Linked DNA regions of Homo sapiens. The protein of the gene in region 3 purifies or fractionates together with the protein of the main gene of each other region. This does not show direct contact. Each region holds a gene or a part of one and is shown on either strand. Other genes may lie near its edges.

The links.
Region 1: the proteins of SLC43A1 (region 3) and ATP11C purify together in Homo sapiens (affinity purification with mass spectrometry; one large-scale study listed by BioGRID and IntAct). This does not show direct contact.
Region 2: the proteins of SLC43A1 (region 3) and MYO6 purify together in Homo sapiens (affinity purification with mass spectrometry; one large-scale study listed by BioGRID and IntAct). This does not show direct contact.
Region 4: the proteins of SLC43A1 (region 3) and DPY19L1 purify together in Homo sapiens (affinity purification with mass spectrometry; one large-scale study listed by BioGRID and IntAct). This does not show direct contact.

The regions. Positions count from the first base shown.
Region 1 is NC_000023.11:139,730,554-139,734,053, reverse strand, and holds part of ATP11C (phospholipid-transporting ATPase IG), read left to right. Parts: intron 1-1,528; coding exon of another isoform or gene 1,529-1,618; exon of another isoform or gene 1,619-1,619; intron 1,620-2,298; coding exon 2,299-2,400; 3' UTR 2,401-2,403; intron 2,404-3,500. UniProt on the Homo sapiens protein: Catalytic component of a P4-ATPase flippase complex which catalyzes the hydrolysis of ATP coupled to the transport of aminophospholipids, phosphatidylserines (PS) and phosphatidylethanolamines (PE), from the outer to the inner leaflet of the plasma membrane.
Region 2 is NC_000006.12:75,916,638-75,920,037, reverse strand, and holds the end of MYO6 (unconventional myosin-VI), read right to left. Parts: 3' UTR 501-3,400; downstream 1-500. UniProt on the Homo sapiens protein: Myosins are actin-based motor molecules with ATPase activity. Unconventional myosins serve in intracellular movements. Myosin 6 is a reverse-direction motor protein that moves towards the minus-end of actin filaments.
Region 3 is NC_000011.10:57,512,903-57,516,980, forward strand, and holds the start of SLC43A1 (large neutral amino acids transporter small subunit 3), read right to left. Parts: upstream 2,801-4,078; 5' UTR 2,542-2,800; intron 2,300-2,541; exon of another isoform or gene 2,233-2,299; coding exon of another isoform or gene 2,198-2,232; intron 2,008-2,197; exon of another isoform or gene 1,879-2,007; intron 1,223-1,878; coding exon of another isoform or gene 1,210-1,222; coding exon 1,056-1,209; intron 1-1,055. UniProt on the Homo sapiens protein: Uniport that mediates the transport of neutral amino acids such as L-leucine, L-isoleucine, L-valine, and L-phenylalanine. The transport activity is sodium ions-independent, electroneutral and mediated by a facilitated diffusion.
Region 4 is NC_000007.14:35,030,986-35,034,485, reverse strand, and holds part of DPY19L1 (protein C-mannosyl-transferase DPY19L1), read left to right. Parts: intron 1-3,500. UniProt on the Homo sapiens protein: C-mannosyltransferase that mediates the C-mannosylation tryptophan residues on target proteins.

The DNA.
Region 1 (3,500 bases), on a different chromosome or scaffold from region 3:
GCTGGTGTCAAAGCTCTCTAGATGACTGCAAAGGAATGTGGAAATTTCATTCTGTTTTAGCTCATTATCTCCTGTTTACCCCACCCCACTGCCGGTTGCTAGCTATATCAATTTTTTTATTGCTTTAGTTACTCTTTCCATGCTTTCTCCTGCTTTCTGTACTTTCATTTCCTTTATAAAGTAGTTTTAACACCTAATCTATTAACTCCTAATATTTCTGCTTCATAGAAATACTTTTATCTCCGATGGTTGGATACAAGTGTTTGAGCACACCAAAACGTGCTTACAGTTGCAGTCTTGAATAGATAGGTTTGTGCATTAAACACGGGGGTGGGGAACTTGGTATCATGCTGATCTTGTCGCAGGGTTTTTGCCCATAAAATAGAAGATAGAAACAATTAAAATCTTTTTCTCAGAATCTAAATATTCTCTAGCTTTATCAATTGGTAATTTGCATTCTATCAATATGTCTATCAACTTTCTTCATTCCACCAACTTTCTTCATTTAAGGTAAAAACAAGAAAAAATGTAGTTGTCAAAACATGAATAAATTATTTACCTTTGAAAGTTTAATTGTTTATTAGAATCTTCTGGAAACAAATGTTACTTTAGCTGGTTTCTTTTTCTAAGCCCATTTTAGGTCACTAAGTAGACAATATGGGTAATCTTTATTAGCAGAGTTGTTCAAGTCATCCACATTGTTGACCACTCATCTTCTGTTTTGCTTGGGCAATGCCAAAACTGAGTCTGTAAATTACCTTATAATTTCAGGCACAGAATCAGAAGGAAAAAAATAACCTTAGGTTTGCCAGTTAAACTTTATCCATTTTCACTTTTCTGGGTGTTTTAAGGGGAAAAAAAATAATACCTTACCCAGGTAAAATTTAGCCTATCTTTCTAAAGAGGACTCTGTAGGAAAAACAGGGAAACCAATCAAATTAGGTTGTAAGAAAGGAAGTTAAGCATTGGTCAGAGGCAAATGGGACTGAAATGTGGTATCACCAAATGTTTTCCCATTGTTATTTTTGATTAAGTTTTTATCCTGCAACTGCTTAAGAGCAGTCAGTCCCTTCATAGTGTATCTGTACAGTTGCATAGGGGAGATAATTACTTCAAGATAGATTGGTGATTGGCAATGGACCCTGGACATAACTCTTTGACCAATGGATTTTGAACAAATGTAGGATAGTGAATTAATGATTAGAGATAAGTCTTATTTTAACGAGAAGCATATTTTAAAGCTATTTTATTTAAAATAGTCAATTTTCCCATTAACAAAATAATTTCAAATTGATATGTAGAGAAATAGTAGTTGGCACGTAATAATAGACTATTCCTATCTCTGACTCTGCTTTTACTTCAGAAAATAATGTCTTCAAAACTAACATATCATTTCGGCTTCGAATTCTCAAGTTTTCTTTTTAAATGTCTTACATTTGAGAGATTATTTACTTTTTTTTTTTTTTTGGTTTCTGCATTTCTCTTTTTTCTACTGCAATTTTCCACCTTTTGTGCAATTGTGAACAAGGTAACGAAACGCCTCCCTTCCTCAGGAACATCTGCTATCTTCATGCTTTCTCAAACTTCCAGCAATCACAGTTTCTCTTGGAGTGAATAAGGTGATTTCCTTTCTTAATGTACCAACTTGCTTGCATTCTCATTTGCCTGACACCATTTTCTAATTCTTTATGAAAAATTACTTCTCATGACTCATTTTATATCTTCTATTGATGCTTAGAGTATTTTGTCATTTTCTTTTAATCATGTGTTCACCTTCCAAATTGTCACACTGGAGAGGAAGTAATTTTTAAAAGCTTGGACTACGGGTCTGTAGTCTTCATTGATCCACGGTATGCAGTGGCCATGGCGTGTTAGAGCTAGTCTGTTCACCAGGACAGGAATGTTTTGCACAAATTTCTCTTTGTTTGATAATACGGCACCGGCACAACTCTCAGAGGTGTTCACCAAAAGGATGGTAAGGTTTACTAATCAAACCATATTGACTCATCTTACCATATTACTTACCAGTGCCATTCCAAAAACCCAAGTTTACTACATACTACTGTTGTCTGTTTACTTCTACCACAAAAACAATTCGAGTTGGAGACTTTCTTAGGCCTTTGAATGTATTCATTTGAATGTTATACATTTACTATATAGTGTAATCATTTGTACTTTTGGCCAGAGGAGTAGTCTATAGGAAATGATTTTTTTCTTTTACCTTTTTTTAAATATATAATCACCAGGTAGGTTAACCAATTTTCAAATGCTTTAAGTATCTTTGCCTCACTATTACAGAGAAATCTGAGCTGTAGAAGGGCATCTGACTCATTATCCGCCAGACCTTCAGTCAGACCTCTTCTTTTACGAACATTCTCAGACGAATCTAATGTATTGTAACAGGTACCTAGTGTTAAACAAATGGGCTGGCTTTAAAAAATCGGATTAACAGCATTATAAAGAAAAAATGAAAATATCACTCTCTAAATTTTCTCTGCTGTTGGTGTGGTGAACTTTACAATATTCTTTGCAAAAATATAAAGATGCATTACTTGGAATATGGGGAAATATGCATTTAAAATATTAAACATTAAAATATGATAAGCCCCCCAAATAAAATGTTAAACATTTTTCAGAGCCAAATGTTGATACAGCATATTTAATTTGTAAGGGGCAAGTTGTCATGGCAAGGCCACCATGTGAAAATGTTTGTTAATATTGATCAGGAAATATAACTTTGATTTATAAAGATCATTTGGAAAACTAAAAGTAAATATTCCAAAATTGCATCTGTATAATATCAAGCCAATTTAGCATTGCATGTTCTCTTGGGAATTATGTGAAAATAACTAAATGTGTTTGTACCTTCATGTGCTGTGTCTGTGTGTTTGCAGGTACTGTATACACTTATGTCCTTGTAAATGTCTGATCTCCAAATATATATCAATGAACCAGTCTAATCATAACTTTTTTAATGTCAAGTTTTATTCAAGCTAAATGTTTCAACTTTCAGAGGTAAAATATTTCATAGCCATTCAGGGGGATGCTTGCCTAATGATATAAAATGCTTTATAATTAATGTTTCCAAAAATGATTAAATTCACTTTATAATGTTTCATTTACCCCCAAAAATATTTGGGAGGAATTGATACGCCGTGGGAGGGCCCCTTGAACTCAGAATGACTCCTTTATGTATAGTCTGTATTTCCTTCAGTGGGGGCCTTTAACAACTCAGACCTCTGGAGGTCTTTTATCCATCCATAGGAATTTAGAGTAATTAATGAACAAGGCTTCCAAGCTTGTCAGCTTGGAAACAACTCTACACAGCTTAAAGCAGGGCCATCTTTCATGCACACATAAAAATTAATGATCATCATGAATACAATTGTGGGTTAGTTCACTTTGAAGCTAATAATTGCGAGTCCACCTTATAGGCCCATTTTTTTCAACAGCTGTCAACTCTGCCACCCTCTAGCAAAGAATACAAGTTAAATTAATGG
Region 2 (3,400 bases), on a different chromosome or scaffold from region 3:
GGAAGAGCTGATGAGGTGAGATGGACAGAGTCTCCTTCCACTCTCAGAGGACCCAGCAGGATCATGGTAGGTTCTTGACACAGGGAATGGACCAGCTATATTCAAGGCCTTAGGGAGAAGGAGCCTTCTTTTGGTCCCCAGTTTTTACATCCTGTGTCTTCTCACAGATTAGTAACGGTCTGGAGAAAGGCAGCCAAAATTTGGTGTGTCTCTAATCTCTACAAAATGAGTAGCTGTCACTCACACAGAATCCTGCCTGTTTCCTGGATGGAGATCACATAGGAAATTTGGGGCCTATGTCCAAAGAAGTTTCAATCACCTTGAGTTCCTTGCTTCTTCCTGCAGCCACCTAACACAGTGCTTCCAGCCCTAGCGACTGGATCAAGCTTCAGGAGCCCAGAATTCGCCAACTTATTCCATCTGAAACACGGCAATAAGTGCAACATTTACAACCTGTTCATGACACCCTGTAATGGTATTAAAAGCACAAGATGCAAGTGGAAATTCTACACAGGGAGCATTTATTTATTTGTATTTCCAGTACATCAATTTTTAGAGAAAGCATTAGATATACACTTTTAATGAAATGAGGAAAAATTAATTGACAGTTTGACTAGATGAATTTTCATAAGTAAAAAGAAAACACCCAACTAATAAGCCTGTGATTTAAAGGTGAGATGCTACTTGGTACAAATTAGGATTGAATGTGTAGATATGGACATAAAGAGTGGAATAACCGACATTGGAGACTCCAGAAAGTGGGAGGCTGAGAAAAGGTTTAGGGATGAAAAATTACCTACTGGGCACAATGTATGCTTCTCTGGGTGTTAGGTACACTAAAAGCCCACATTTTACCACTATGCAATATACCCATGTAACAAAACTGCACTTGTACCCCCTAAATCTATTTTATTTTTTGAGATGGAATTTCGCTCTTGTTGCCCAGGATGGAGTGCAATGGCGCCATCTCGGCTCCCTGCAACCTCTGCCTCCCGCGTTCAAGTGATTCTCCTGCCTCAGCCTCCCAAGTAGCAGGGATTACAGGCACCCACTACCACGCCTGGCTAATGTTTTGTATTTTTAGTAGAGACAGGGTTTCACCATGTTGGCCAGGCTGGTCTCGAAGTCTTGACCTCGTGATCCACCCGCCTCGGCCTCCCAAAGTGCTGGGATTACAGGCGTGAGCCACCGCGCCCAGCCCTAAATCTATTTTTAAAAAAACAAATTTGTACTGAAGATTCTCCTTTTGAATGTGCATTAATTTTTCCTGATCATCTCTTGAAAAACTTCTGAGACAGCTAAGCTTGTTTCATATATTAGGTTAGCAATGGGGAAAGAATACAGTGATTTGAATTGAACTAAAGCGTACTCAGAGAAGTGCTCCCAGCAGAGTAGGTGCTACTTCTGCCAGTCTCTCCATCTTACCCTTCCATGAGGCTTATGTACAGAATGCCTATTTACTGCTGACCTTCTCCAGTATGGCAGTGCCATTCCTATGTGCTAAGAATGTATACACCGGGCATATCTTGATCCAAGTTTTAATAACCATACGTTCTGATCCTATAAATTACACATTATTCATTCTAAAATTTCGTAGAGATCTAGGAGTGCTCTGTGTCCTAAAATGTATCAGTGTTTCCAAACTGGGGGTGCAGAATCTTTAGGGGCACACAACCTGTCTCTTCCACTGTTGCTCTTCTCTTTCCTTATTGTTACAACTGTTTCCCCCCCTCTAACATGTCCTTATTCTCATGTTTAGATATCCTTTGCCCTCCCCTTCCATCCTTGTTAGTTTATCTTCTGGGAGAAATTTTAAAACTCTCAATACTTGTTATTATTGGTAATGATAAATAGGGAAAACCTGTCACACCTTCTGAAGTTGTGGAATGACAGAGAGGCAACCCTTTGTAAATCCACAGGTGCCACTAAAAAGTGTTTGTTTTGGTTCTTTTTGTTACATATGATTGCAGCAAAGGCTTTGATATATTTTTCAGTCTACAACTAAATTACTTGACCTCTCTGGATCTGTTACCTCTTCCATAAAAGGAGGCAGGTCTATCACTAACATCATATTAATTGGCTGACTGATTGATTCAATAAATATTTATTCTACTGATCCAAGTACTCTTAAGCTACTTCAGGTAAAAAAAAAAACCAATGATCTACATATTTGGATCGCTGAGAACCATAGTAATGACCTGTGAATGAAAATGTCTTTTAAAAAATATCCAATTAATAAAGCTCTACAAACAATACCATTATTCTTGCCTGTGGATTGCTATTCTCTAAGTGTTCACAACCACCACTGATTTTCCACTTAAGATGTTCTTTCCTTGGTTGCTTGCAAAACAAAATGGTTCACAAGAATGACCTATGAAAAGTCATTACAGAAGCAGAATGAGCATAACAATAGAATGCCTTTGTGTGGCCCTGTGCTCCTACATGCACTGTTTTGTTTCTTCCTCATATTTTCACAATCCTCTGAGAAGGTGCCATCTCCCCAACTTTACAACTAAGAAAACTCAATATTCTCTTAACATACGTGGATTAGAGTAACTTCCTTTTCTCAATTAGTTCCCATAACTCATAATACATATCTCAACTGTGTTACCACAATTAGGAATTATATTAAAATTGAATCAAATGTGAAAACATTCTGTCCTCTCATTTTAAATATTTTATGCATGCTGCCTTTGCAAAGCATATGCTATGGAAAGAACTGGTATTAAGAAAAGATTAGTTCTTTATATATAGTGGTTTAAACTTCTAATTTTAAATCTCAGTTAAAATGATTAAAATATGAGTGAATTTACTTTTGATTTCCACAGTTTTAACCTGGCATGCATGGGCTTGACTGTGAACATGGTAAAGCAGCTGCATGAACATCATTTAGGACACCACTCCTGCTGTTTCCTTTAAAAGGCTGACAGGGTCCTAAGTTTCTCCAGCAAAGGGGTGTCTGTGTGTATGTGCATCTACTGTACGTAGGTTACTGTAAATCTATCTGAATTAGGGCAGTTGCCCTGCTGGCCAAAATTAACTCAGGAAACTATTTTAAATAGATAAGTTCTAGGACAGCTGTGTGACATGATTAGAAACATTATGGCTTAAGATTAACTATAATTGTATTAACTATTAGAGTCAAAAACTAAGGACTTATAACAACCCTTTGCTGTGATACATTTCTTACAAATTTCTGAAACATTAGATTCTCTCATTTAAATATGTTTAACTCTTTAATTTTCCATCTAGTGCCTATTAATGTATCTAAAAGATACACAAAACTATTGTACTAAAGAGACATGTCATTAAAAAACAATTTGGCTACTAAATTTTGTTCAAGAACTTTACTCACTACTGGTTAGGAAAAAAGCTTATCATTCACTATCCTACACAAATA
Region 3 (4,078 bases):
AGTGATCAAGACCTCCCCATCTCCACCCCTCAAGGAATCGGTTTTCTTCCATAGCCACATCAGGTGCTGTGCAGGAAGGAGTTGAAACGAGAAGCCAGGAGCAACGAGAAGGACACTAACATTTATTAAGCACTGCAGACTCTCACAGCACTCCCACGGAATCGATATTATTATCCCCATTCTGAAGACCAGGCAACTGAAGCTCAATGTTTAAGGAACTCACCGAAGTCACCAACTGATAAAAGTGATGGAAGCTGGGATTCAAATCCAAGCTAAACTTCCTTCCAAGCTTACTCCACAACACAGAGGTTGGGGAAAGGGGATAAAAAGAGAGGGGAGCCCAATTCCATTTCCACCCAGCTCCTGAGGCGGAGCTTGTCAGCACAGCTCTCTCCTTCCCAGAATAGGAAGATACCCATCAGAGGCAAGTCCTAGACACCAGCAGTGGTAACTCCCTGCCCCAAGGCAGCTGCAGACAGCCTATGGCTGTAGTTACTGCTCCCAAAGAGTGTTAGAATTCCCACTCCCAGCTTCGGGGCCACTCACACAAGGTGATTGAAGTGGAAACCAGAGACTCTCCACAATGCCCTCCTAGAGTAAATGAGGCTATGTAACTTTGTCCAAATGAGTAATTTGAAAACCTGGGGGCTCCCAGCTCCTGAAAAGGGAAGGATGTGGGGCCCTTTATATTCATACTCCACTTTGTGCAGCTCTCCCTTGTCTTATGATAGCCCTATTAAGAAATTCCTCTCCCAGCACGTCTCCTTCAAAGAGCTCTAGACCTGAGGCTGTCAGAGGCTTAGGACTCTGCCTATTAGTCCCAGGGTCTGGATGACCAGCAGGACACCTGGCATTCAGTGACCACTGGATTAGATAAATGAAACAGTGGGCAGAGTGCCACCCAATCTCCCCCTGAAGTTTGAAGAGGTCGAGAAGTGAGGCTGTCCAACTGCTGACCCTGCTTTCTGTCCACCTGGCCACCTAACCTTTTCTGGCTTCCACCTGCCCCTTTGCCATCCCTCCCCCCAGCCCACCCAGCCCATTTTCAGGCATACCTGGGCACGTGCTGGAATAGAAGCCCTCGTTCTTCAGAATGATCAACAGGGAGCCCCAGCCCAGGAGTACAGCAGAGAAGAAGAGGTTCTCCAGCACAGCCGTGCAGGCCATCCACCAGCGCCTCCGGTACGCCTGTTGCAGCGTGGGGGCCATGCTGGCCCCGAGCCTGCACAGAAACAGAGCGCTGGGTGAAGGGCCCCCCAGTGGCCCCAGGGAAGGGTCCTGCATCATGGTGGCACCCGAGACCTCTCGGGCCAGCCCGCGAGGAGCCCCTCATGGAGGCCCCATAGAGCCCTGGGCTTCCCAGCCGGTGCCAAGGAGCTGGCTCCGCGCGCACTAGCAGTGCCAGAGGTGCACGCGGCACGGGGCTCCCGCTGAGCCACTATCGGAAACAAGGAAGGTCCTGTCTGCGCGCTGCAGCTTCCTAGCAGGCTGCCGGGTTCTCTCACCCAGGCCAGGGCGCTCAGGGCCGGGCTGCTGGGGAGAAAGTCCGCATCTGCCCAGGTCCCCAGAGGACAGCAAGGGGCAGAGCGCGCTCTGAAGCACCGCGGGCCCATGTCCGGACTCTCGCGCCAGGAAAGACCCCTAGAAGCTGGCAGGAAGAAGGGCAAGTTCAAGGCTACCCTACGACCCCATCTTCCAGTTGCCCCTCCAAGACCTCTCCTTCCCTCTGGGGCCGGGCGACAGCAAGCCCTCCCCCTTTCCGTATCAGGTGACCCACGACCCTACAGTCTCTCGGGCCAAGCCAACAGCTGCCACGTGGAGGGAGACCCAGGACGGGCTCTCCTCGGTTCCCTCCTCCCCCGCGCGCCCCTCACTCACTCCGCAGGGCTCGGGGCACCAGGCTTTGCACCTCGGAACCCGCTTGCCCCCCTCCAGCCCCGGGAGGGGGCTCGGACTTCGGCAGGAAGTCTGGCGGCTGCTGACTTTATAAGGGCAGCGGTGGCGGATGGGCTGGCGGGCGGGTGTGTTTACCAAAGGGAGGGAAAGAGCCCCAGCTCCCCCCGCCGCGGCCGCTGCAGCCTCGGCGGGAGGAGAGGGAACGCGGGCGGCGCGGGGGCGGGGAGCGACAACTGGGATGAGACCGAGGAAAGCGGAGAGGAGAAGGGCAAGAAAGACCCAGAGAGAGGGGAGGAAGTACCAGTCACTTCTTCCAGGGGGACTCGGTATTCTCATCTGTGAAACGGGGCTTTGGGTTCAAGCGCTCCAGGAGGTCCGCTGGAACTCTGGCAAACGCGCAGCTCTAAGCAGAGGAAGTGCAGCGAGCGGGGACCCGGGAGGAAGAGAAGAGTCGGAGGGGTCAGAGAAAAGAAAAGGGAAGGACGCGCTTGGCGAGATGGGACACTGTGCCGCGGGACCGCGGGCGCAAGTAACGGTCTTTCCTTGGGAAGCCTGGCAGTGTCGGCGGGAGCCGGCCTCGGTGTCTCTCAGCCGACGCATAGCCGGAGACCCTACGCGCGCCCCCTCCCCGCCCACGCTGCTCACCTCCGGTCACCGGCAAATGAGCAGCCAGCAGCTGCGGACGCCTCCGGGAGCGCAACGCTTTCGCGGCGCGTCCGGAGTCCCGTGGGCCCAGCCCTGAGCCGCGCCGGCGCTGGGGTCTTCTCTGCGTGCAGGACCCGGCGGCCACGGAGCTTCAGCCTGACAGCCCGGTGGCCTCGCCTCCGCTGTCTCCTCGGAAGAAGCGGGGGAACTGGGAACCCGCCGGGCGCCAGAGGTCTGCGAAGCTGGGCTTGGATGAAGTGGATCTGCGGAGTTGATAGTTGTATTTACACGCGTCCGGAGCTGCGCCCCGAGGTGGGGGCGGGGGCTCCCTTCTTTTCCCCTCCCCTTAGGTCGAGTTTCACGCGCACGTGACTCGCCCGCTGGTCCCGGACACTCTCCCTCTGGCACAGCCCCAGCACCTACATTTCCACCCTGGACCCCCATCTTCTCCCCCAAGCCCCCAGACTAACATCAGGCAGCGCCCTCTGTATCCTTGTTCAAAACAAAGTGCGATTCGGCTGAAGCCGACTGACCGCGATTCAGGGCCGCCTTGGGTGGGGTTTTGAACTGTGCAGCTGGAAGCAGTGTTTTCCGAGAGGCAGAGTGGCACGGGTTTCTTTGGAGTTAGTCAGATCGAGGTCTGAGTCTTGACTTTTTAACTGACTACCCTGGGTTACCTAGGGCAAGTTACCTCTCTGAGCCTCAGCTTCCTCCTCTTTAAATTCGGTTAAAATGGAACCTACCTAACTGCCCAAAGGAATCGCGATTGTGATGCAGGTAAAATGCTAAGCATAGCATTTGGCATAGTAAGCATAATGTTAATTGTTGCTGCTGTCATTATTTCAGAAGACCTGGTGATCGGATGCTTCCAGATCAACAATTGATTGACTCCAGGTAAATCTCTCAGCCTCCCTGAGCCTCAGTATCCTCATCTGTAAAATAGACTACTATGGTGTGGAGTAATGAGAAGTAATCTCATTACATGTGAGTTTAATTGTGTGTTAAGAGTGCTGCTAATGCATGCTGAGCTTAATACCTAGGTGATGGGTTGATAGGTGCAATAAACCACCACGGCATACATTTACCTACGTAACAAACCTGCACATTCTGCACATGTACCCCAGAACTTAAAATAAAAATAAAATTTTTTTAAAAAAAGAGTGATACTGGTGGCCAGGTGTGGTGGTTCATGCCTGTAATCCCAGAACTTTGGGAGGCCAAGGCAGGAGGATCGCTTGAGCTCAGGAGTTCGAGACCAACCTGGACAACATGGTGAAACCCCGTCTCTACAAAAAAGAAAAAAAAATAGCCAGGCATGGTGGTGTGCACCTGCAGTCTCAGCTACCCAGCAGGCTGAAGTGGGAGGATCACTGAGCTGGAGAGATGGAGGCTGCAGTGAGCCAAGATCATGCCACTACACTCCAGCCTGGGTGACAGAGTAAGACTCTGTCTCAAAAACAAAACAAGAATGACTACAGAAAGCTCCAAGAAGGCCTCAGATAAAAGGGAACCCCTGAACAGATGAGCCACCAAGCCA
Region 4 (3,500 bases), on a different chromosome or scaffold from region 3:
TATTTTTAGAAGTTTCAACCTGATAGCTTCCTCATGCAGAGGTGGCTGTGACATAGTAAGAACCTTGACAATGTTTCCCAAACTTTTTTGACCACAGCTGACATTGTAACAATACATTTTATATTAAACCTGTTCACACTTCCACAATGCAACTCAGTACATATATGCATAAGTCTATATGTCTGTTGGTCTATTTATGTATGCCAGTGCTCCGTCATGGAAACAATTGTGGTAGTAAAAGATACACCCATTAGACATGCAAACAAAGCATGTCTGTGGTGAAAGACTAACATGAGATACTATATACACAACAATAAAACAAGAACCTGAGTATGGGAAAAGTGGATGATAAAAACTACCTTTTCCCCCCTTTGCATTAATCCTGTTTGACTCATTCCCATTGCCCACCTGGTTCCTGTGGTCAATGGCAAGGGTACACCTGCTATAACCTGGTTCCTTATTGACAAGGCTTTGCAACCTCAGCATTGTGGCATTTTGGGTGGGATAATTTTTTTGTTGAGGGGGCTTTCCTGTGCACTGCAGGATTTTAGCAGCATCCTTGGCCTCCACCTACTAGATGCCACTGGTATCTCCCCAGTAGTGACAACGAAAATGTCTCCAGATTTTGGCCATTGTACCCTGGGAGGCAAAATTGTGTCATTTGGGACCACAGCTTTTATTCTCTACAGCTTACGAGAACCTTGAAGCCCATATGGTAGGAAACACTTGCGACTTCTTAGAGGCAGAAGTGGTCAGAAACTGGGTGGAGGCAGAGAGTTGAATCTAGCTGTTGGGGACTAGATGGGGGGAGCAATGTGGTGTGGTAGAAGCAGCATAGCCATATCAACACTGGCCTGCATTTGAATCCTGTTTCTGCATTCGAGCTGTTCTACACTCCTTTAATATTTCTCACCCTTAAAATGGGAATAATAAATGCTTTGTCTGATTATGGTAAAAAATAAATGAGATAATACATGTAAAATAGCACAGTAAGTTCATTCATAGTCAGTCATACCATATCATTGAGCGTCTACTAAGCCAGATGCTAGTTGGTGGGGTAAAATGTAGAATGAGACTCTGTCACCCCTACCTTCATGGAACTTACATTCTGGAAGGGGGGATGGTAAATAAATGAAAATAATTGCACATTGTGAATGAGTGCACTGCAGGAAAGAAACAAGCTGAGATAGAAAAAAAAGGAAATACCCTCTTTAAGTAGGGTCAGGAAAGGTCTCTGGGGAGGTAGCCTTGAAGCTGAGACCGATAGAAAGAAAAGATGTCAGCCGAACAGAAGAGTATGACAGAGCTTAGCATGTTGAAAGAAGAGAGGGTGGAGGTGCATCAAAGTGAGATGGGCATGGGCCAGATCTTGAAAAGGAGCTTGGGTTTTATTCTCAGTGCAACAGGAAGCCATTGAGGAATGCTCAACAGGAGGAGAGTGACATGATTAAATTTTTACTTTGAGAAATCTGCTCTTGGGAAAATGGGTGGTTGCACTACAAGGACAAAAGTGGAGAGACCCATGAGGAGGCTGTTCACGGACCTAGCAAGAGGGTTGCTGGCCTAGATGAAGGCGGTGGCTGTGGAGATGGAGAGAAATTGGTCAATTTGAGTTGTATTTTGGAGGTGAAAATGATAGGACTTATGAATTGGGCTTGGATTGAGGGAAAGGAAGGAGTTATGAATACTTTGTACATTTTTGGCTTCTCTAATTGGGTAAATAATGCTGGCATTCACCAAGATAGTGAAGACTAGGGGTATGGATGAGGGAATGGGTTTGAAGGAAAAGGTCAAGAATTTCGTCTTGGACATGTTACTTTTGGGACATTTGTGAGATGTCCAAGTAGAAATGCCAATCAGTGGTGGGATATGAGAGAAAAGGTCTGAGTGGAGATGTACTACAGGGAGTCATCAGCAAATAGGTGGTTTTCACATTAATGGTAATTGAATTTGTATTCCCATTGAACTTCTATTTCCATACTTAGGGGAACAATAGCATCTTATACTGATAGGGGGCTTACTCTTTGCCAGGCTTTGTTGGAAGTGCTTTAGATGAACTCATTTAACTGTTTACTCAGTCCTCACCATGACACTATGATTACTGTGCTTGTTTTACCACGTGGGGGGAATCTGAGGCACAAAGATATTAAGTAACTTGTCCAAGGTCACCCCTAGAATGTAGAAGGGCCAGGATTTGACCCAGGCAATGTGTTTCCTAAGTTCATGCTCTTAACTAGTATGCTATATTTCATCTCCTCTAAGGGGACAGTACAGCAAAAGAAATGAAACCCTAGAGTCCAATTCTGAGAAACCCTAACATTTTGTGCTCAATAAATGTTAGTTTTCTTGTTTCTTCCTTCCCCAGGAAAAAGAAGGAAAAGAGGGTCATACTTAGAGATACAGGAACAACAAGTAGAAAGAGCATATTAGGGGTGGCATAAGGGCCAAGAAAAGCTAAGGAAGCATGAGGCACAGGGACACAGGCCATCTTGGTGTGCTTGCTTTCAAACAGACACATAGACCCAACTGAGCACCAGCTGTGAGAGTGTGTTTATGTTAATTCATAGAGGTTATGCCAATGGGAATTTGGGATTTTAAAGAATTTCTTTAATGTTTACAGCCATTTTTTTTTCTTTCTAAGATAGACTTCTGGCTAACTCTAAAGAATGTTTATAATCACCTAAACATATTTTATTATTAACAGATACAGTTAGAAGTTTTCTGAATATGTGATGCTCATTAGCATCCAAATAACAAATTTGATAAGTTTAGTTTATGTAAATATAAGCATATGTTATCTATTTGTGATTGATTTTTGGCCAATAATATGGCATCAATACTGAAAGCACATACAGTTTTATTTATGTACATATGGGTATTTGGATGTTGCTAATATTTGAACCGTGGCTGTTATGCATTGTAAATACTTATCCTATTAGGCTGTATTAATTTCTCTTAATGAGTGTGTTAGGTATATTAATGTTTCTTAAAGTTCATGCTAATGAGGCAAGTTGTTACTTAGTAACCCCGAGGGATTGGTTCAAGGACCTCCCTCCGATATCAAAATCTGCAGATTCTCAAGTCCCTAGTATAAAATGGCATAGTATTAGCCTATAACATACACACATACTCCTGGATACTTTAAATCATGCCTAGATTACTTAGAATACCTAATAGAATGTAAATGTTACTTATATATTTGTTACACTGTATTGTTTAGGGAATAATATCTGCATGTGTTCAGTACAGATGGATTTTTTTTCCGCCTACTATTTTCAATCTGAGGTTGGTTGAATCTGCAGATGTGGAACTGACAGATATGGAGGACTGACTAAATCTACATTGTCATAGAGACCATAAACCTGTGTACATAGTTCCAAATGGGGTAGCTTTAGGCTTTATTATTCATATGTTTAATCCTAAATTCCTGTTTTGCTAGTTCTTTTGCCATCAGCTTGTACTTCAGCCAAACCATTGAGACATTACTCTTCCAGGGGAAG